Regions from separate parts of the Homo sapiens genome. Here regions 1 and 2 are each reported to be linked to region 3. Evidence: microRNA targets listed by miRTarBase, many of them from high-throughput screens and not tested one by one. Region 3 holds a microRNA gene; each other region holds the end of a gene's coding sequence.
What was found. The annotated mature microRNA hsa-miR-5703 reads AGGAGAAGUCGGGAAGGU and lies in region 3 at 3,978-3,995, opposite strand. An mRNA with a match to its seed (bases 2 to 7 or 8) in the 3' UTR can be bound and repressed. Matches are read on the target gene's strand: a 7mer-m8 pairs with bases 2 to 8, a 7mer-A1 pairs with bases 2 to 7 and ends in A, and an 8mer does both.

Region 1 (7,113 bases), not on the chromosome of region 3:
ATATATATAGTCAGTTAATTGTGTCGACATGAATTAATACAAAATATGATTGCAAAGAAAGCACTGGATGCTTTGGGAAAAAGGAGAAAAGAGCTGTTAAGCTGCCAAAATAGAAATGTTTTACTTGCAACATTTTGCATTTTCTTTTCACAGGCCCAGTGCTTTTACAACAGAGGAATGCTAAGGGAGAATTGCCCTTGGATTATGTGGTTTCACCTCAAATCAAAGAAGAACTGTTTGCTATTACAAAAATAGAAGATACAGTGGAGAACTTTCATGCACAAGCAGAGAAACATTTTCATTACCAGCAACTTGAATTTGGCTCCTTTTTACTTAGTAGGATGTTGCTAAATTTTTGTTCAATTTTTGATTTATCTTCAGAGTTCATTTTAGCTTCCAAAGGGTTAACTCATCTAAATGAACTGCTTATGGCTTGTAAAAGTCATAAAGAAACCACCAGTGTTCATACTGACTGGTTACTGGATCTTTATGCTGGAAATATAAAGACATTGCAGAAACTCCCACACATTCTTAAGGAACTGCCTGAGAATTTGAAAGTGTGTCCTGGGGTACACACTGAGGCCTTGATGATAACATTGGAAATGATGTGTCGGTCAGTCATGGAGTTTTCATGATGATGCTAGAAAGTATGGATTGACTTTCTAAATCTGTTCAGTTTGCATTGGTACTTACTGTGGACTTCATAGCTTACTGACAGATAGTAATTTGATTTATTTATTGACAGACTTTGCAGCCTTGCTAAATTTTAAAAGCATTTTTAAAAAAACTTCTACAAAACTCTAGTATGGGCTTCTGACTTTTTCCAGGGTGTAGAATTTGACTCAAAAGTAAAAATAATTTTGTTTTAGTATATTCTACTTTCATTAATGTTTTTTTGTTCTGAAAGTGATATTATATTGTACATGTAAAATTAATTTAAATATTTTTTCAAATAAAAATGTAATGTCCTGTATTCTAGATGTTCTAGGTCTTAGAATCATGGCAAGCATATTCATACAAATGCGTACCTATAAACTTGTAGCTCCTGACTCTTAGGGATGGATTTTGAGGAAAAAACAAGACTAAACAAAAACATGTAGCTCCCTATTTCTTCTCTCTAGGTTGTTGGACTGAAATATGCATTTTAGCTTTGTGTGTTTCTAAAATAAACATTTCTAAAATTTACAGTAATAATTAATATTCTTTTGGTTTTTAAATGCAGCAAATATGCAGAGTCTGACAGTTCAATTCCTTGATCTGTTTTATTTTAGCAATTCATATACAAAATGTATCTGTCGCTGCCCTATGTAACCCAGTATTCTGTACCTGAAAACATTCTGCTGCATAGGTTTATGAGTTTAATATTAAGATATTGAGTGGCATCTAAGTAATAGATTTGAGATTATTTAAGATCTTAATATATAGTATGAATTTACTGAGTAGTAATGTTTTAATTTGCAGTTTTTCCTTATAGCAGTTTGTAGTAAAACTAAAAGAAAGGGTGTGGATAATAACCACTTTTGAGATTGGAGTTTCTTCACTACTGGGAGTAAGTTACATTATGATACAGGTGGAAAATAAACACTTCCATTTAGCTTTTATGTAATTCAAGTGATGACCTTAGCAGTTAATCTGCTAAAGCAATACACTTCAGTTTTATTTTGGAAATAGATATTTTAACAAGATACAAATGCTCAGTATCATATTACTGGGTTTGTAATCTAAATTGAAAACTGCTATATCAGTATGAAAAAATATTTTAAATAAGTACTTTTTCCACACATACTCAGGAAATACTAGTTTCTATTTAGCCTTCAAATTTGGCATCATACAAATCTCTTTATTATTAATCTGCCAAAGTATCAGACAAAAAATGATATAGTGAAGACTATCTAAGAAGAGTTTAAATGCTTATAGAGAGTAAAGTGCTTCTCCAGATGATGAATAAGAACGTTTTTTATTCCAATGAGTACCTCTTTACTTCACTTGTAAAGGTGTCTGGGATAGTGTTTGCTTGGTAAACTAATATAAACTTGTAAACATAGGCTTTGACATCATACACATTTTCAAATCCTTGTCTAGTTTCTTAATAACTAAATTGCAAGGCAAATTCTTTTCTGAGCTTTGGCTTTCCTACATGTCAAATAGAAATCACACCAGGTATCTTTGTCATGATAGAATTGTTAGCATATCACATCATATGACACTTAATAAATATTATTTCCTTTCTAATTCTTACCTCCTCTTTTGATTATAATGAATCATTTAGACAAAAGGCAATATAGTAATTGTTTAAGTTGGTAGTAATTCTAAGGTAATTAAGGAATCAACATCATGAGTTAGGGTTTTATACTGTTAGTACAAAGTAGTTTTCCAAATTAGATGTTCATAACGTATATTTGTTTAATTGCAATTAGCATTAATATTTCATAATTGACTGCTCTGTCTGCCAACTTCTACAAGCAGTGATGACATGAAGTGTGAAACAGATGTCACTGAGGTCTCTGCCTTTAAGAAGTTTTACACTTCTTCGAAAGTCCAACGTGGCAAACATAGGTTACTGTGTTCTGTGCCCTGGCTAACAATACCAGTATATGAGTATGAATCTAAATGTTCAGGAAAAGGCTTCATTCCCAAAATTACTTCTTATACTTTATTTTAGAAAACATAATAATAATTGCCTTGAATAATTGCCCAAATCTATCTTGGAGGTATAGGAAGAAGAAATTCTCAATAAGTAAAGTATAATTCATAGTCTTAGTCCTAGATTTTCAATGGCAGACTTTTCAAAGTTGCATCTGAAGACAAGGTTGAGAAATGCTATTCTTCACTGTATTTTGCCAGATGTGATATCATAGTTCTATGGAATCATATTTTTTAAATTTCTGTAAGAGACCTTATTACAATGTAAATAAAGCTGGAGAGGAGATTTCTGAGCAGTTAAGATTCAGCTTTTCCCCATGCATTGTTTACTGGCAGTTTCTTAAATCTCTTTGAAGTTAGAGTTTTCTAGGTTGTTAATTTTTAATTTCACTTTGCAGAATAAAATCATCCAAGTATATACATATTCTGTCATTTTATTCATTCCAAGATGACCAGAAAAACATTTATCCTCATAAAAGTCAAATGTGAAATTAATTCCTTTGAATTCAGCATTTCTTGAACACCTACTCTGAACCAGGTGGTGTGCTTGACAAGGGCTAACTACAAAAAAAGAGGAAAGGCCCACAGTCTAGGAAGGTAAATAAGGCTTAAGTATTGTGAATTTTATTGTCTTCTACATCTGCTAAAAAATTAATTTCAGTAATAATTGGTGTTCTGTTTTAGTTTATAAATGTGAATATTCAAGTGTCCAGTACTTTAATCCTTTGATGAGTATTATTTTAGCAATTTTATTTTAGAGTGGATAGGGTGTAGGGTGTGCTTTTGCAGTCTTAGTATTTTTAAGCAAGCACAAATGCATTACACTAAGATACTTTATATAACCTCCAGAAAATATCTGCCATTTTTGTTTATGCTGCTATAGAAAGTTAATTAAATGAATACCTTCACATGAAAAAAATATCCATGGAATGTGCAATCCTTATGCCTTTATACACCTTTCCAGTTAAGCGGTGAACTTGATGAGAGCCTGTCACTGTTGCTCCTTAATCAGTAGGAAGGGGTCATCTTGAGTGACATGAGGCACTCTTTCCCTGAGGCATTTATCACGTAGCTTTCACGCCAATTGCACCTCCTGCTGACGTGGAGCTTGCAAAACTAGGAATGATAATTGTTTTTATGACAAATGTGGATTGAGTTAGAAAGGTCAGTGATAGCGTTATTAGAATTAAGCTCTGCCTGGTGTTGTCAAAACAGGAGACATGGAATTGTTAACTATTCCTTGTAAATCAAATTATGTTATCAGAAAATTCACCTTGTAGGTTAAAATGAACTGTAGTTGGAGAATATACTTTGGTAGTTATTTGTTGTGATATATATTTTGAAATTATTATAGGCTATAAATTAATTAGAAAAGGTTGAAGTGTTGTTTTACTTGGCTCTGAGTATACATTTTCAAGGTAAGGCAAATCCTACTCAAAGAAGACCTTTTCAAAGGAAATAAAACATTTTTAACATTATTGATTATTAGATGTTTAAAAAGTTTGTCCTCTTAAGTACTTATCTTACAGAACATCTAAAATATGTACAAGCTGTTCCTAATACTTTTTATATTTGAATGTATTACTATGTCTTTTTTAGTGTAAGTATATAGTTTTGATTATAAATACACTTGAACTATGTTTTTTAAAAAGCTTGAAATACAATCCTTAGTACTAGATATAAGTGATTTTTTTTTTTAGAATGTTAATACTTTTTGTTTTTCAAGAGATGATCCCTCCCACCCCCTTTTTAAAACAGAAGTATAATGAACTCTGTTCTGGGTTTTTTAACTACTTGCAGAGTTAAAGATCAACAATATTAAGTCAGCAAAGTGACTATTAAACCATATTTCTAACAAAATATGCAGTATTGTTATATATGTAATATATCATATTGCCTTTAACAAATATAGACCCCAAAAGCCCTTATTCAAGTATTTATAAATAGTTATTTCCAATTAGAATTAAAACATATACTTCCAAATTAGTCATTTTTGTATCATGGCCCCAAATCTTTTTAGATGTAGAACCCAGATTTGGTAGATCTAATCCTCTTCCTTGCCAAAGTATCTGAGTTGGATCAAGTGAACGTTAATGTATTATGGATGTTAAACATTAATAGAGAATGGCTCACTAGTTTGGGACATACAATTTCATTCTACCAAAGAGTAGAAATTTAAACAAAAAACAAAACAAAAGGTTTAGCACTTCCAAAAAGTCAGGTGCGCTGAACTGAAAATCTGGAATCCAGGTTTGAATTTATACCTATCATACTGTCGTTTATCTTGATAGTAGATGAACTAAAATTACCACTGCTTCTCTATTCTGTCTCAAAGTGAAATAAATAGTAATATTGAAAAATCATTAATCTTAAAGTGTTGACAGATGAAAATAACTTAGTTTGTTGTCAGTGACTTCTCAACCTAAAGGTTAGGTCAACAGTGGTTTATGTCATGACTCTTAATAAATTTTTCTAATGACCAGAATAGTTTGATTTATGATAGTTTTTTTGTTTTTGTTTAAAGGAATATTTATCTTTGTTATCTGGCTTCATCCTAAAGATGCATTTTTCTACTTTGCATTCATTCCTTTTTATATTAGAGATAAAATTACCGAGCAATAAGTAAAATCTGGTAAAATTAAAATATGTGTTTTAAGGAATTTTCCAGGAAAACTTAAAAGCAGAATTGTAAAGGTGAAAACTGGACAAGGGGATGAGGGGAAAAATGGTTAAGAATCATTCTGCTTAAAGGAATCCAAAGGGTAAAGATTTCTAGGTACTGTTTATTATATTGATGGAACTTAATGAAGGTATAAAATCAGACAAGCATGTAGACTAATCTCAGAAATAAACTGGGTCTTTGAAATTTTTGAATAATATTCGATAAACTAAACCAAAGGTCCAGATAATTGTTTTATAGAAGGTTCTTTTGGTCGAAATTCAATTTAATCAAAAATAAAGAATAATAAAATTCCAGTTCTAATGGTATCAGAAACAGGCTAGATTTTTTTTCACTGTTTTTTAAAAAACAATTGACACATAATAATTGTACATGTTTATTAGGGTACAGTGTGATGCTTCAATACATGTGTACATTGTATAATGATAAAATCATGGTGGTTAACATGTCATTTATCTTAAACCTTTCCAATTTCTTTGTGGTGATAACGTTCAAGACCCACTTTTCTAGCTATCTTGAAATATAATACATTGTTATTATCTGTAGTCGCCCCACTATGTAATAGAACATCAGCACTTACTCTTCTTAGTTCATCTAACTAACTTTGTAGCCCTTCAGACCATCCTCTCCCCATCTTTGCCTTCCCTCCCTTTCCCTTCCCAGCCTCTGGTAACCACCATTCTACTGTCTACTTCTATGAGATCACCTCTCTTAGCTTCCACATGTAAGTGAGATCATGTGGTATTTGTCTTCCTGTGAGAAAAAGGTTGTTTCGAATAGTAATACTCAGTCCTTTCTCACAGGCAAATCTTGACTCATTTCTTATTTTCCTGTCATTTCAGTTCTTTTACACTCCCAAAAATACTGTTAAGTTCCTACATGTTACTGGAGGAAATGGACTCAGAGAGTTGAAAGCTACTTATTAAAAGTGGTTGGACCTTTTACCTAAATATCATTTTTTACTAATATTAATATTTTAAAATTGAAACTAAATGTTATTAAAAAGGATCTTCTCAGCCAGACATGGTAGCACATGCCTATAGTCCCAGCTATTTGAGAGGCTGAGGCAGAATGATCACTTGAGCCCAGGAGTTCAAGGCCAACCTGAGCAACATAGCAAGACTCTTTTAAAAAAATAATAACATAAATATATCATCTAAATTACATAAGGAAAAAGATTGTAAGTAAAAAATTGCTTATAGTGATTGTCTTTATGTGAAAAAATTTTGGATCTTTTTCACCTCTCCAGGTTTCTTTGTAATGATTTGTATTTGTTTATAATACCAGTATCCAATTTATTTTGAAAGTAATGCTCCTGATTTAAGTAAGAATCAGTCCTTGAAATTTTTCTAAAGTTGCCTTATTTAAACTGGCACCTACTGGATTTTTAAAAGGTAAATTACAGTTTTAATATACTATTTAAAGTTGGATATAATTAAAAGTATAATTAGTATTATCTAACACAGATCTCAAAAAATACACTATACATGTGCTCCTTTTTTCAAAGTGAATCTGACCACTTTACTGATATGGTTCTCTACTCTTTAAGACACTTCAAAATGGAGCCCCAAGTATGCTGAAGTGGGAACTGGGGGGACTTTACTCTTTTGTAGTACTCTTAAATTGCTAAAGATTAAACTTGCTCATGTGGATACTATGTGGAGTCATAACATATCTTTACTTTGTGATTTTAGTATTTATGGGACCTGAAGAATTACTTGTTCTCTAGTGAGATTTTTCAGATACGACACAGAAAAGCAGGGAGAAACTGGTAAGATTAAATGATAGCT
Region 2 (7,113 bases), not on the chromosome of region 3:
AAGTTTCTAGAGCCTGACCTAGTCATTCTTGAGTTACATTATAATGGAGGATGCAAAACAAAGGCTGGAAAACCTGAAACGAGGCCTTCTGTCCTCCAGTTCAGGCTTGATCAACCCTTCTCTTTTTTTCTCTACTGTCCAGGTGTGTGAGAAAGAGAAACTGTTGTCAGAGAGGAATCAACTGAAAGCATGCATGGGGGAACTGTTGGACAACTTCTCCTGCCTTTCCCAGGAAGTTTGCCGAGACATCCAGAGCCCCGAGCAGATCCAGGCCCTGCATCGGTATTGCCCTGTCCTCAGACCCATGGACTTGCCCACGGCCTCCAGTATTAACCCTGCGCCCTTGGGTGCTGAGCAGAACATTGCGGCCTCCCAATGCGCAGTGGGGGAAAACGTGCCCTGCTGCTTGGAGCCAGGCGCGGCTCCCCCCGGACCCCCCTGGGCACCCAGCAACACCTCCGAGAATTGTACCTCTGGGAGGAGACTAGAAGGCACTGACCCGGGAACCTTCTCAGAGAGAGGACCTCCTCTTGAACCCAGGAGCCAAACAGTGACCGTGGACTTCTGCCAGGAAATGACTGATAAGTGTACAACTGACGAACAGCCCAGGAAAGATTATACCTAGTGACTCGGCTCTGCCTCCCAGTCCGCACACCTCTCCCATCCAGGCGTTCTTCAGTCAGCCTGTGGCACTGTTCATCTGCTGTCCCGAAGAAACCGAGAACACATTTGGTGCACACTACAGCGGTCTTAGCAGCAATACTGTTCCGAAGTATCCTCTCCTCTTCTCGAGCAGGAGTGATAGTTACCTTCACAATGGTGCTACCCCTTGCCCAGGCAAGGAAAGACAGCAGTGATGACACTGTCTGTCTGTGGCTCAATTTCAGTCTTCACAGGGATAGACTACAACACCTCTAGGCCCCAACCACGGATTTTTTTTCTCAGTGGCCCATGTCACAAACCCTATCTCAGGAATTTCTTCTGAATGTTCAATTTTTTTCATTGAAGACAGCTTCTATACACATCAAAGTTTTATAGCTAGACTGTACATATTATATATAATATATATATAAAATATATATATATATATATATATATCCATATGCAAAAGTCCTGCATGCCTCAACTTTCTCATCCTAAAACTGGAAACTTATTTCTCATTTAGAAACAGGTTCCAACATTCCTCTTCTTTTGTCTCTGATGCTAGAACTAGTTTGGTAACTGTTAACATGGTCATTTTTCTTGCTTCACAGTTCAATTTTCAATTCGTACTTATTTATGGACAAAATTCAGTGTTGGAAGCTTTTTCCCAAGGTTTTATTTCAGATTTCTTTTTCGTTTGGTTTGGTTTTGGCACCTCCAAGTGGTGTCATTTGAGCATTGTAGGTTTGTTTTTTGTTTGTTTGGGGGGTTTTGTTTGTTTTTGTTTTTGTTTTTGTTTTCCTTGCAGATACTGTACAGTAATGGTCAACTTTGCCACTTGCACTGAGTTTTGGGTCAAACCTATTTTCTTAAATGAAGTTGTAACTTCGGTATAACTCAAGTATACTGTATATTCTTTGCTTTTAGTTAAAAAAGTAAAACATTTTAGCTAATTAAAAAGCACTCAGGTGATAATTATGTAGGAAAAACAATCTTGCCAAATAATGAATTCATCCTAGGATGTGTAGACAATAATCTGCTTGAATATTTTTATATTTCACCTCCTCCCCACCTTTCCCTAAGCAAAGTTTAAACGCAGATAGAGAGTTCAGAGTTGATGCTGGATGTTCAGATTCCTAAGTGGGGAGAGAGTTTGGACATCTCACTCAAAAGTACATCAGAAAAACAGGAATCCGTGATTTTATACCAGAACTCAGCAGGCATTGGCTCCTAGAAATCAAGTTAGAAAGTTTTCACCCAGGGAGTAAGTCCCATTCATTTCAACACGTCCTGAGGCCTCGGCTTGCTCTTGGAAGTGTTGTGCAGTAGGACCTGCTCCCCTGAAGGACGGGGCCAACCAGCCACTGGCTTTCCTGCCCAGGCTTGGCCTCCCAGGACATCTGGCCTGAGGGGATTTGAATCACAGCCCCGAAGGTCCTGCCTTCACCCCATTGGGAGAGAGCAGGGCATCCTGGCATCTGCGATCCATCCCTGACACAGGCTGACACATTCTTTCTCCTTTCCTTCTCCAAAGGCTTGGAGTTTTCTTCTGAGGTTTTTCTGCCAGTGTCTTGTCTGAAGGCAGACTTCATTCTGAGGCTTTGGACAAGCTATCACCGGGAACCCTCCCTGTCCCCTTCCCGAATCACACACATACCCTACCCTCACCTGATGATAATTTTCTCTTCTTGCTGCAAAACTGGTTGGCTTGCAACCCAGAGAGAGCAGCTTCCCTTGGCTCTGGGGCCGTGTTGGCCCCAGCCACGTTTACAGGAAGGTGTGCCCCAGAGGAGGAGGAATCAGCTCCCTCGCTCCAGTGGCCTTGGGTCCGGGTCTCACTGAGCAGCCCGAGGGCCACTCCAGCCCGGCTGGGGAAGAGAGTCCTGAACGGTTTGATGTGGGGATGGGGTGGTGGGCAGTGGGGAATAGATGGTTGACTTTGTTTCTTTATTTGTGCCATTGTTTGGACAATATTAAAGCTGCATGTAAAAGGGGAAATTAGTATATGATGTAGGCTAAAAGTGAAATCATAGTAACATATGTTTTAGTATTATTAACTTTTTTCTGTACAAATATTAGCACTAAATGTTTAAATATGTATGAATGCCAGAAATTTGTCAGTTCATGCAGTAGGATAAAAAAAAAAAAAAAAAAAAAAAAAAGGCTTTTCTTTTTAAACAGTTCCACTTTTAAAACCTGCCTCTGGGTTTTTGTTTTTTCTTGTTTGTGTGTGTGTGTGTGTGTGTGTGTGTGTGTGTGTGTGTGTGTGTGTGTGTCTGAAACAGATCTTGATAAAGCTCTGTGTTGGAGCTGCTGGTTTTTGTTATGGTTGTTGGAATTTCTTGGCCTACTAGGACAGTTCTGTGCTTCACCATGAGGTTTGCCTTTGTGGAAAACTGGTGACAGTGAGAATATAAACTCAATGTGAATCACGTGATACTTCGCAGGCGTGTGTTACAGTGGAGTCAGCTGACAGTATTTTGCTTTTTAACTCTATTGTTGCCTTTCCAAGTGACCTCTCCTCTTCTTTTAAAAAAAGAACACTTTCTGCTCATATCATAACCAGGTCCAACCCAGCTTCTTGGCATGAGGTTTACCCTGGTAACAACTCATGTGCAACTGGTAGTCTTGACCACATTCCATCCATTTCCTCAGGTTTCTGTGGTTCAGTAGCCCAGACCTGTTTGGCAGCCATTTCTAGCAGGGGCGGGGCCTCTTTATTTCTCTCCACCCTAACTCAGACCTCACCTTCCTCCCACCCACCCCTGCCTTGCTTTTCTTCCTCTTCCCCCAACCTAACTTCTGCCATGGGAACTGGTTAAAAACACTGCTCTAAAAACCATCTTCCAATTTCATAGAGATTTCTCACAAGTTATTTCATTCATAATCCACCATGAACAGTGACTAGCTTCGTGCAGTTGTTCATGTGATGTGTGTGTGTCTTTTCCTATTCAGAACTATGTGCTTGTCAAAATTATTTCTGGGTTGATTCAAAGGGAGGACTTGCTGGGGACCAGAATCCAAACGGCCTCAAGTGGAATTTTAAAACCTAGCCTGTCTCTTTTCCCTGGGATCCCTCTGTCAACCCCACGCCTTTTAGGAAAAAGAAAAGTGAGTGAACAGCAAGGAAGAGTGTTTGCACAGTACAGTAACATTTGGTTGTTCTTAAGGCTCTTTTCTTACAAAAATAAGAGACCCTCCAACCACGGGCTGTTTAGGAGGATGCCTGCTTGGGTCTCCAAATGGCTGGGGTAGGAATGGTTGTTGGGGCAGAGCCAGTGGAGGTGAGTGACCCTGAGACTAATGAACATCCCACCTAAATCCAGTCCTCCCCTTGGATCTGCCTTTGTCCTGCTTGTGTATCCAGGCAACCTCTTTTCAAGTTGGTCAGGCTTTGGACAGGTGAGTGATTTGCTGTATGTGTTTGTTTCTCTGCGTTACCTGGGGGTGCCTTGATTAAAATCGAACTTTATTACATACTGATTCTGGAACAAAACAGTTAGAAAAACTTTAAAAAAAAAAAAACCGACAAAGTTACGAGGCCATCCTGCTATTTATCTTCTGAGTTCCCAGCAATGACTCAGGCATCAGAGATGATGCTGCAGTGGAAAACCTGACTCTGTGTGTCTGCAACTGAATGTTGTGCGAGTAATTTATTAACTGTCTTTCTAAAGGTTTGCTGCTTTTAAGATGCACTATAATTCGGGATGTAATCCTTACATTGCTTTTCCAAGGAAGGGAACAAAAGTCTAGTGATTAGTATGCCAACTGCCACTACTCCTTCAAAAGGAGCCAGGACCAGCGACAAGACTCATGAGAGGACTGGCTAAAGTGAAGTGTGCACAGTGTGAAGTTTAATGCTGTTGTCAAGAGGCCTAAACCCACATTTTCTCTTTTAATATTTTATGATTGCCATCAAAGAAGAAGAAAAAGAAGGAACAGACAAAGGTTTGAAAATGATAAGCCTGTTAAGACACCAAAAACTCCTGTCCCGTGAAGCTGCTTGACATCCTGTGGAGTAGCATAATCCTCTCAAAATGAGGAAGAGCTGCCTGCAAAGCTTTCTCAAGTCCCTATTTGGCTACCTACTTCTCTACATTATGCCCCATTTAAACTAGGAGCTGTCTTAGAAATGACTTCAAACTGCTTCACTATTGCTTACAGTTTAGGAGGAGTCTCAGATCCAGAAGGAGCAAGAATCAAGTTTGGTCCTCAAATGACTGTAAATAGACTAAAGAACAAGGTGTTTTTTGTTTTTGTTTTTGTTTTCTAAGAATAAAGCTGTTCGTTGTATCATGAGTTAGTGTTTCTTCCCCAAACTGAAGACTGTGTTGGAAGTGCAATTTCTGGTGAGTCAGTCCACAATACAATGCCCTGTGTGGAGTTGGTATTCATACAGGAAATCTGTGTGCACGAGGCATTGTGTGTTGAAAGTGTATGTTTATAGTACTGCCTGAGCCATCTCATGACCCCAGCGTCCAAAACCGATGCTGTAGAACAGAACATATCTGTACACAAATAGTGTGTGCAAATAGCATTTGTACATAGAAAAGTCTCATTGTGGCAGATTGAGCATAAATTATTCAACTGACGGTGCAAAAACATTACTTGCAAAGAAAAGTTTATAGTATTTTCCTACACTCCACCCTGGGAGATGATATTTCTATCAAATGAATATCAGTGCATTTTAAATGTAATATGAAAACGATGCTGCCATTTTGTGAAGAATACCCACTTGGTTGCAGAGGCCAACTTTCATAGCTTTGATTTAATGTTGTGACACGGTGTATGCATTTTGCTGTCAAGCAATGGATAAACAGCTCTGACTTTCATTCTCATTCCAGTTTATTGACCTCAGATAAAACACTGGCCCTTCTTAGAAGCAGAAGTGTGCACCAAGACCATTCATTTCAGGTAGACTCACATTCAGTGCCAAGTGCTCCCATGGGAATAATCAGACGCATATGTTGCGAAAGAGTGAAGGGACTTGGACAAAGAGGGGTTTTCCTACAGATGGATGCTCAGTCTTCTACCAAAACATGTTTGGAGGCAGAACTATGACCTCCCCTTAAGTCCTAACAATGTATTTTGTGTGTGCAAATCCTGGGATGCCCGTTTCACGCTCTGACATAAAGACATGGCACCTCTAGTGAGTGATCAGGAAGATTCCATATGCATTTGGGAGCTTCAGGTGCTTGTTAGACACAGTGAGCCATTCAAGGCAAGCACCACCTTTGCTAGTGAGGCCAAGAGAGCCTGTGACAATTTGACAATTTGTTCCAGAACCAGTCTGATGCAAGTGCACCTCTAATATATGCCTTACAAACTCCAGAGGCCATATTCAAAACAGGGTCTTCTCAGTGTATGCAAGGGGCTGCAGCCCCTCTTCTCTTCCTCCCCAGGTTGAACAATACGGACAGTTTTCACACATATCTACCTGTATAACCCTCTGTACCTCTCATAACTGGTCAACGACTGTAACAGGTTACATCAGGTGTTTTTCTACATACTTTTTACACAGATTCTATGCGATTAATGTAATTTAATTCAATGCATCATTTTATTGTACTAGTTCTTAGGCTTGTCCTTATTTTTTTCTAAGTGATTGTGGTTTTTCTCGTGGTTTTTATTGTAAAAAATGAAAGGCTGTTGATGCTTATTCTCTGTAACTAAGAATTTTTACCTTTTGGGGGAAAAAAGCATTGCTATGAACTAATGAATTGAAACTTCATTTACTCATTGTAAATACACTATTGTGCAAAAAAAGTTTTCACTCAATTGAATTGCTAGTGTTAACTGAATTTTGTCTAGACACCATTTCTGTTGATGAAATAAAGACATATCATTATGCATTGTAAACTGATTTTCTCTGCCTCTGATCCCTATGTTCCAAATTACAGAGTGAGAAACCTCAGGAAATCTTTTTTCCTAGAGGCCATTTCTCTTCCTCTAGTTTGGACCCTTACTTGCTACCTGATTAATCTGATTAGGAATCTTTAAAATTGGATAATATTAATGTGATTCCTAAACTCTGAATTTTAAAAATCCCTAGTGCCTGTGAGAGTAGATAAAAGGCTTTAAACCCAATTTCTCGGTTTTGATATTGTGCTATCGCTATGCAGAATGTTACCACGGGAGAAAACTGGGTGATGGGTATCATTTCTTGCAACTGCATGTGAATCTGCAATTATATCCAAAATAGGCTGAATTTTTTAAAAACTAAATGAAAGTAAATGAGAAAGAACATTAAGCCAACACCAAGATGCAGTGAGTTGCAAGGAAAGATGTTTAGAATTGTGGTTGAGGAATCCATACAGTCATGCATTGGTTAGTGAAGGGGGTACGTTGTGAGAAATGCATCCTTACGCAATTTCCTATTGTGAGAACATCAGGGTGTGCCACACCAACCTAGATGAGAAAGCCTATGACACACCTAGACTAGATGTTCCTAGATTGCAAACTTGTGCAGCA
Region 3 (7,124 bases):
GAAGTTCATTTTAAAGTTTTACAATCTAAATTCAGTTACACTCTGAATGAACATCATTCAAGCATATAGGACAGTCATCTGAAAAAAAAGAAACAAGAAAGATTAGCTCCAAGTCTAGTAACATTAACAACAAGATGCTAGTTCAATTTATTTTAAAAAAAGGTATTAGTATAAATGATAGAAGGTATGTCACTATCCTAAAATTTAGAATTCATGATAGTGGATACTATTTGCTATGTATTCATATTTTCCAGGTAAATCAAGGAACGGCAGCTAGCATGCCTTATTTCAATATTTGTAACTCCAGTGCTTAGCCCTATCCTCAAATACGGTATGTGCTCAATAAGTAAATACAGTAACGATGTGTATCATTGAATCCTCTTAACAACCCTGAGCTATATGATATCTTCTTAACATAAATAAAGAAACTGAGGCTACAAGGATGGATCTGGGCCAATCTGCATGTAGTGGCCTAGCATAACACCTTGCCCTAAGCCACGAAGCTAGTAGCATTGTCAAAATCTGACTTCAAAATTCATATTCTTTCAATTATACCATGTCATCTAAACATCAGATACATAATTATTAAACCCAAGAGTTATATTATTCTTCCTAAATTATTTTCCTGCACTATTGCTTGTCAAAGAAAAAAATCTTCAGAAGCTATTGTCCCTCCAACGTTCTGCAGTAGACATTTGATGGTTGCCACTCTAGTCTTCATTCCCTACATCCCAAGAATTCTAGATTTCAGATTTGGGAACTCTATTTGGGGATCCTTGTGACAATGAAGTCAGGTTAGAACATGTGTCCAGTTGTGGCATGATCTAAGCTAACCCAATCAGAGGGAAATGCAGAACTTCTGAAAGTATTGGACCAACGACATAATTAAGGCAGTATACCCAGGAGCTGGGGACAACCATGCTCGAATGAGGAAAATCTAGGCAATATTATTAAGCCACTGTATAGTTTTACTTTAAAATCAATCAATAAACCCTTCATATTTTTAAACCAATTAGATTCCGGTTTTGAGTTACAACCATAAAATCCAAAGTGACAGATTTTTATTAGGATATTTCTTATTTAATATCTTTCACATACAGTACTGTTCCCTTACTCATGGCATGTCCTCTTCCTTGATGCTTCTCATCTATAGGGCACTTGCTATATACCAGGCATTACGTGAGATGTTTAACATACATTATTTTTAATACTGAAAACAAATCTACATCCAAAACTTACAAGGGAAATCTTATCCTCACTGTTTCATATAAGAGAAAAATCAAGCTCAAATAGATTGAGTGACATTCTCAATACCGTATAACTAATACTTGGAGTCAGGATTCAAAGCCATGTGTACCTAGCTCATAAGTACTTGATCTTTCAAACATATGAAGCAGAATTTCTCGTTAAAGGTCTTTGCTCAGGCATCAACTCCCAGAGAAGCTGTATCATTTACATATTTCCTGGCTATCTCATTCACAGAAAGGAAATACTACAATATATTGTAACTCTACGTTTACATACTTACAAGGCACGCTCCATAGAACAGTTAAGATCCAGGTAACTTATGACACAGGACAAGTAGGCAATAAATATTTGTGGAATGACTCAATAGAGAAATGAAGTCCTATCTGCCACAGATTAAGTTCCATTAAGATAAATAATTGTCATTATACTGAGATATCCTTTTATGCACAATGTTTCTGAAATGTGGTATCTAGGAAGAAATTTGAAAATATGTCCTTGATATTACACATTTGCTGCTGTACTTACAGGGACTACACAGAAATGTCAGAAATCCGGAAGTGTAAATATATGTATTTTTTCCAAATCAAATACTTTACATGGATTAAAGGACCTGTGTTTAGTAAAAGCAGGACATACATCTTAACCATGTAATAAAAATCAAATACAATTACAATTGTTCTATTGGCTTCATTTTGGAACCAATATTGTCCAACGTAAGTAACAACTTTCTAGCTTAACTCCTTTTTCTGTAAATGAAATGCATGAACCAGGCTACCTCCTTGATATCACCTAGCTCTGTGATTCTGTAGTAATTCGAGAATATTATTAACTGGCAACTTCTCAGAGTGTCTCCCTGGCCACACAGCCTAAAAGTAACCATGAGCACTCTCCTATCAAACAATTTTCATGTTCAGCATAGTACTTGCCCAAGACATTTTTCTTACTTTTGCATCCCCACTGGACTGTAAGAACCAAGAGAACAAGACTTTGCTATATTTACTGGCACACCCCAGGGCCTTACACAACCTAATAGGCACCAAAAAAAATGTCTGCTGAAGAAATAACACTCATGTAATACTAATAATGCCTCTTTGCCCAACTTTAAAAAGCAAATAGTACATACTAGACATGTTCTGCATTTTCTAAGTTTTAAGAAATCAATTTTCCCACATAAAGTATTATGTGCTTTGTATTAATCTTACAAGCAAAGGTTTTAAAAATACTTAGTAACTGCCACGTTGTTAGTAACTTTAAATACAAGATAATAATATAAAAGCATTTTATCAATTCCAAAACCACCTGCAAATTTTCCGAATGAAATTGCACGGCAATAAAAATCTTTATCAAAATAAAGCTTAATGAAGCAAAGAACAACAAACACAAATCATCCCAGTAACTCAGGACGGTAGTGTCTTTCTGAAATCATGGTGACTTGCTAGCTCTCCTCATTTCTGTGTACAGCCAGGGCACTCGGGTATTGATAGCGAGATACAGATAAATCTCACAGATAACTCCATCATATTTAGAATCACACAGCTCCTAGTGGGTACCTTATTGCCATTAAAACTTTCCCCCAACTCCTCAACACTCTCTTCGGACCATAAAACTAAAATCCCACAGCTTCAAATCTGCTCCTCTGCCTCCCCCTCCCGCAATTAATCCTTTCGAACTTTTCCCAGGGGATTCACATCTGCCATCAAGATGCTTTCATCCTGCTACTATTCCTAAGTGCCTGCTTCCTCCCAGTTACGTAGGTACTCTCGACCCAGAAAAAAGGCACGGGCGAGGCAGGCGTCCCTCCCTCCCACCCCAGCTTCTCCCCGACCCCCAGCAGGAGCGCCCAGCAGGTGCCTCGCTCCGCACCGCGGCTCCCGGGCCGCTGAGAGGCGGGGCACACAAAGGACCCGCATGGACCTCCCCCCCGGCCTCCTAGCGTCTTCCCCCACCCCCCACAGCCCGGCGCCCCGGGTAGCTGGAGAGCGAGGGCGGCGGCCGCAGGCTCGACGGAGACCAGGGACGCTCGCCCCGGTCGCCCCCTCCCTGACCCCAACCCCGCCCACGTCCCACCCACGAAGGCTGCCCAGAACGTAAACCCTCGCCCGGCAAAACCGAAAACGCATCCCCAGCCCGGCTGCCCGGGCCCTGCGCATCCAGCCCGCAGCCTCCCACGCCGCGCCCGCCAGCCGGCGCCCAACGGCCGCCCCCGACCGCCTCCCACGGCACCCGGCTCTTTCCCAGCCCCGGAAGGGTCCCGGTCCCGCCGCCCGCTCCCCCACCTCCCGGGAAGGGCCCGACACCCGCCCGGCCGCCCCGCACTCACAGGCTGCCGGAGCAGGAGGTACACACGAAGGAGCCGACCGTCATGTTAACGTAGGTGGGGCCGCGCTGGTCGCAGTCGAAGCACTTTCGGTTGTGCGGGAGGCCGGTCATGTCCCGCAGCATCTTCAGGTGCTTCTCCTCCTGCTTCCGCTTCGCGCTGGCCGCCATGGCCGCGGCGCCAAGGGAGGAGGCCGGCAGGGCCGGGAGCCGGGCAGCGCTGCGCCGGGGGCCCGCGGTCCCACGGGCCGCCCTGGCCGCGGCCGCCGCCCTCCGTCTGCGCGCGCCGCCCGCGCCGGACCCGGCCGCAGCGGCTTGGCTGTACTGGGCTCGACGCGGCCCGGGCGCTGTGGTACGCGGGCTGACGGGCCACACCAACCGGCACAGCCGGGACAACCGCCGCCGCCGCCGCCACCTTCCCGACTTCTCCTGAGGGGAAAAGACGAGGAAGGGGACGGCAAGAGGAGGCCCGCCCTGGGCGGCCGGTAGCCAAGTGTCCGCTGGCGCCCTCTGCTGGCCAGGAGGAGTCACTGCGGCCTCGCTGAGGCATGGGCCGGGTCTGGAGCCAAGTAGGGTAGACACAATGGTGATAATAATATTAATAATAGACAGTATTTATTGAGCGCTTATATATGCAAAGCGTTTCACATGGGTTACCTTCCCCTTCTGTTTAAAACTCTTCAAGGGCTTTCCACTGCTTTGAGTATAATTCCAAATTCCTCACCGTGCCGTAAAAAGTGCTCCATAGTCTAGCCCAGTCTACCTCATTCTTCGTCGTCCTCACTCAGCCACACTGGATTTTGAGTTTTCTGAACACAGCAAGCTCCTTTCTGACTCCTGCAGGACCTTTGCCCTTGCTCTTCTCTCTTTATCTTTGGGCCAGCTAATTTGGGGGGGCTTGGGGTGTCCTGTGCACTGTAGGATACTGGGCGGCGTTCCTAGCCTATACCCACTAGATACAAGAACAAACCCCCCAATTCCCATTGCTGGCAACCAAAAATCCCCAGACATTGCCAAAAGTGGAGGGAACTTTAGGGCGGTGCAGTCACCTGGCTTGAGAACTGCTGCGTGTGGAAACCCGGATCATCCATAGCTGACATCCTCTAAGTCAGGTGGGGCTCAGATGTCACCTCCCCCGCCAGACTGTCCCAGATCAGCCGAGTTAATGTTGCAGCTCACCTTTCTCGAAGTTGCTCTCCATCAAATTGCTGCGTTGTATTTTCGTCTCAGTTCTAGCTATTTGAAATACTGCATCTTATTTCGTGTTTACCATGGGTGATCTGGACTCTCCCTTTAGGCGCTAAACAGCCTGGCCCCCGTATTTTCTGTGCCACTCCACCCCATTCCCCTCGCAGAGCTGGAGACTAGGTGTTCAATGTTGACGGAATGAATACATGAAATCGTTCATGTAATCTTCACAACAACCCTTCGAGGTGAGCGTTATTGTTATTTACATTTTACAAAACAGGAAGATGAAACCCTGAGGGATTAAGTAAATTTACCCAAGGGTACCTATGGCGAAGCTCAATTCCAACCCAGACAGCCAGACTGCAGGACCCAAATCCCCACTGCAACAATCAACTTCGTCTCTCGTTTTCCAAAGGAGTACAGGGAGACCCAGAGAGCTGAAGTTCTCAAATCACTGGGCTGTTGAATGGATTAGAATCTACGTTTCCTAACAGCCAAGACCAACCTCCACATCTCTCATGAAAGGGATTGGGTGAATCAACAAAGTGAGACTTCATATTAATATAATACTACTAATAATAATTAATGTTTTTAATATTAAAAGAAATGGACAGATAGATTGGCCAATGAATGTTTTTAAACTTTTCTATTATGGAAAATATCAAACTACCATGAGCCCATGGACCACTTTCAGCAATGATTAAGCCCATGGCTAATCTTGCTTTATAAATACCTCAACCCTCCATCCCCTCTCCTATTATTTTAAAGCAAATTCTAGGTTTCGTACCATTCATCTAAATGGTACATAGTTCCATTTGTATCCCTAAAAAATAAAAACTTTATCTCTTTCAAACTTAGCCATGATACCGTTAGCATATCTAAAAAGTTAACAATAGGCTGGGCACGATGGCGCACACCTGTAATCCCAGCACTGTGGGAGGCCAAGGCAGGTGGATTACCTGAGGTCAGGAGTTCAGGACCAGCCTGGCCTACATGGCGAAACCGGGTCTCTACTAAAAATATGAAAATTAGCCAGGCATGGTGGCATGCACTTGTAGTCCCAGCTACTTGGGAAGCTGAGGCAGGAGAATCACTTGAACCTGGGAGGCAGAGGTGGCAGTGAGCCAAGATTGTGCCACTGCACTCCAACCTGGGCAATAGAGCAAGACTCCGCCTCAAAAAAAAAAAAGTTAATAACTCCTAAAGATCATCAAATATCGCACTAGTGTTTAAGTTGGCAATTATCAATATTTTAATGAGATTTTTACAGTTTGTTTGAACCCACTCCTTGCAACTGGGTAATATGTCTCATAAGGTTTCTTTGGGTCTCTCCACCATCTCTTTTTTTTTAATTATAATTCATTTGTTTTAGTAATTGGGCACTTTATTCTGTAGAGTTTCTCATAATCTGTATCATTTAACATGTCCCTCTGTTCTATTTCCTAAAAATTGGTAGTTAGATCTAGTTCACTAGTATCCAGTTCAGTATTTTTGCGGGGCAGGCATTCATTTCATTGTGTTCTTCCATCAAGAGGGACATAATTGAGGAGAGGATATCTTTTTCATGATGTTGGTAACCATTGATGATTAATGTCTAGATTCATTAATTCATTAATGATTAGAAAATACTGATATTCTAATTCTGCCATTCTGGCTGGGTGCGGTGACTCACGCCTGTAATCCCAGCAACTTTGGGAGGCTGGGGCAGGAGGATCATCTAAGGTCAGGAGTTCGAGACCAGCCTGGCCAACATGGCGAAACCCCGTCTCTACTAAAAATACAAAAATTAGCTGAGCATGGTGGCAGGCACCTGTAATCCCAGCTACTCGGGAGGCTGGGGCAGGAGAATTGCTTGAACCCAGGAGGTGGAGGTTGCAGTGAGCTGAGATCCCACCACTGCACTCCAGCCTGGGTGACAGAATGAGACTCTGTCTCAAAAAAATAAAAAATAAAAATAAATAAATAAATAAAACTAATTCTACCATTCCTTCATTTATCAGCTCAAATTTTCTATAAAGAAAAAATTTCCCCTCATCTACCATTTTATTTGGTATAGTACATGTCAGAAAGGCAGGATAAATATTTGATTCCTTTCCTTTATTCACAAATTTTCAAAATAATGTATTGGCTTCATTTCACCTTCCAGTGGTGATCAATATATATAGACAGAGATATATAGATATATCTATATTTATATTTTGGAGACAGGGTCTCACTCAGTCACCCAGGCTGGAGTACAATGGTACAATCATAGCTCACTACAGCCTCGAACTCCTGGGCTCAAGTGTTCCTCCTGCCTCGGCACACCCCCTCAAGAAGCTAGGACCACCACTCCCGGCTAACTTTTGTATTTGTTGTAGAGACAAGCTGTC

Region 1: miRTarBase lists SLF1 as a target of hsa-miR-5703. Seed matches in the 3' UTR shown: 8mer at 1,929-1,936.
Region 2: miRTarBase lists BACH2 as a target of hsa-miR-5703. Seed matches in the 3' UTR shown: 8mer at 2,166-2,173.

What each region holds. Positions count from the first base shown.
Region 1 is chr5:94,694,678-94,701,790 of GRCh38, forward strand. SLF1 (SMC5/6 complex localization factor 1) reads left to right here. Exons shown (of 21, transcript NM_032290.4): 21 at 154-2,944. The coding sequence ends at 635. Among named protein-coding and RNA genes, the nearest start is that of SLF1, 80 kb to the left of the region's middle.
Region 2 is chr6:89,925,920-89,933,032 of GRCh38, reverse strand. BACH2 (BACH transcriptional regulator 2) reads left to right here. Exons shown (of 9, transcript NM_021813.4): 9 at 143-6,505. The coding sequence ends at 625. Among named protein-coding and RNA genes, the nearest start is that of GJA10, 35 kb to the right of the region's middle. RefSeq lists a silencer at 4,929-5,223.
Region 3 is chr2:227,469,033-227,476,156 of GRCh38, reverse strand. It overlaps MIR5703 (microRNA 5703), which reads right to left and starts at 4,025; the gene lies at 3,970-4,025. It overlaps AGFG1 (ArfGAP with FG repeats 1), which reads right to left and starts at 4,001. Exons shown (of 13, transcript NM_004504.5): 1 at 3,569-4,001. The coding sequence starts at 3,735. It overlaps LOC124907994 (a long non-coding RNA gene), which reads left to right and starts at 4,058. Exons shown (of 2, transcript XR_007088114.1): 1 at 4,058-4,997; 2 at 5,168-5,369. RefSeq lists a silencer at 3,293-4,012 and an enhancer at 4,125-5,088.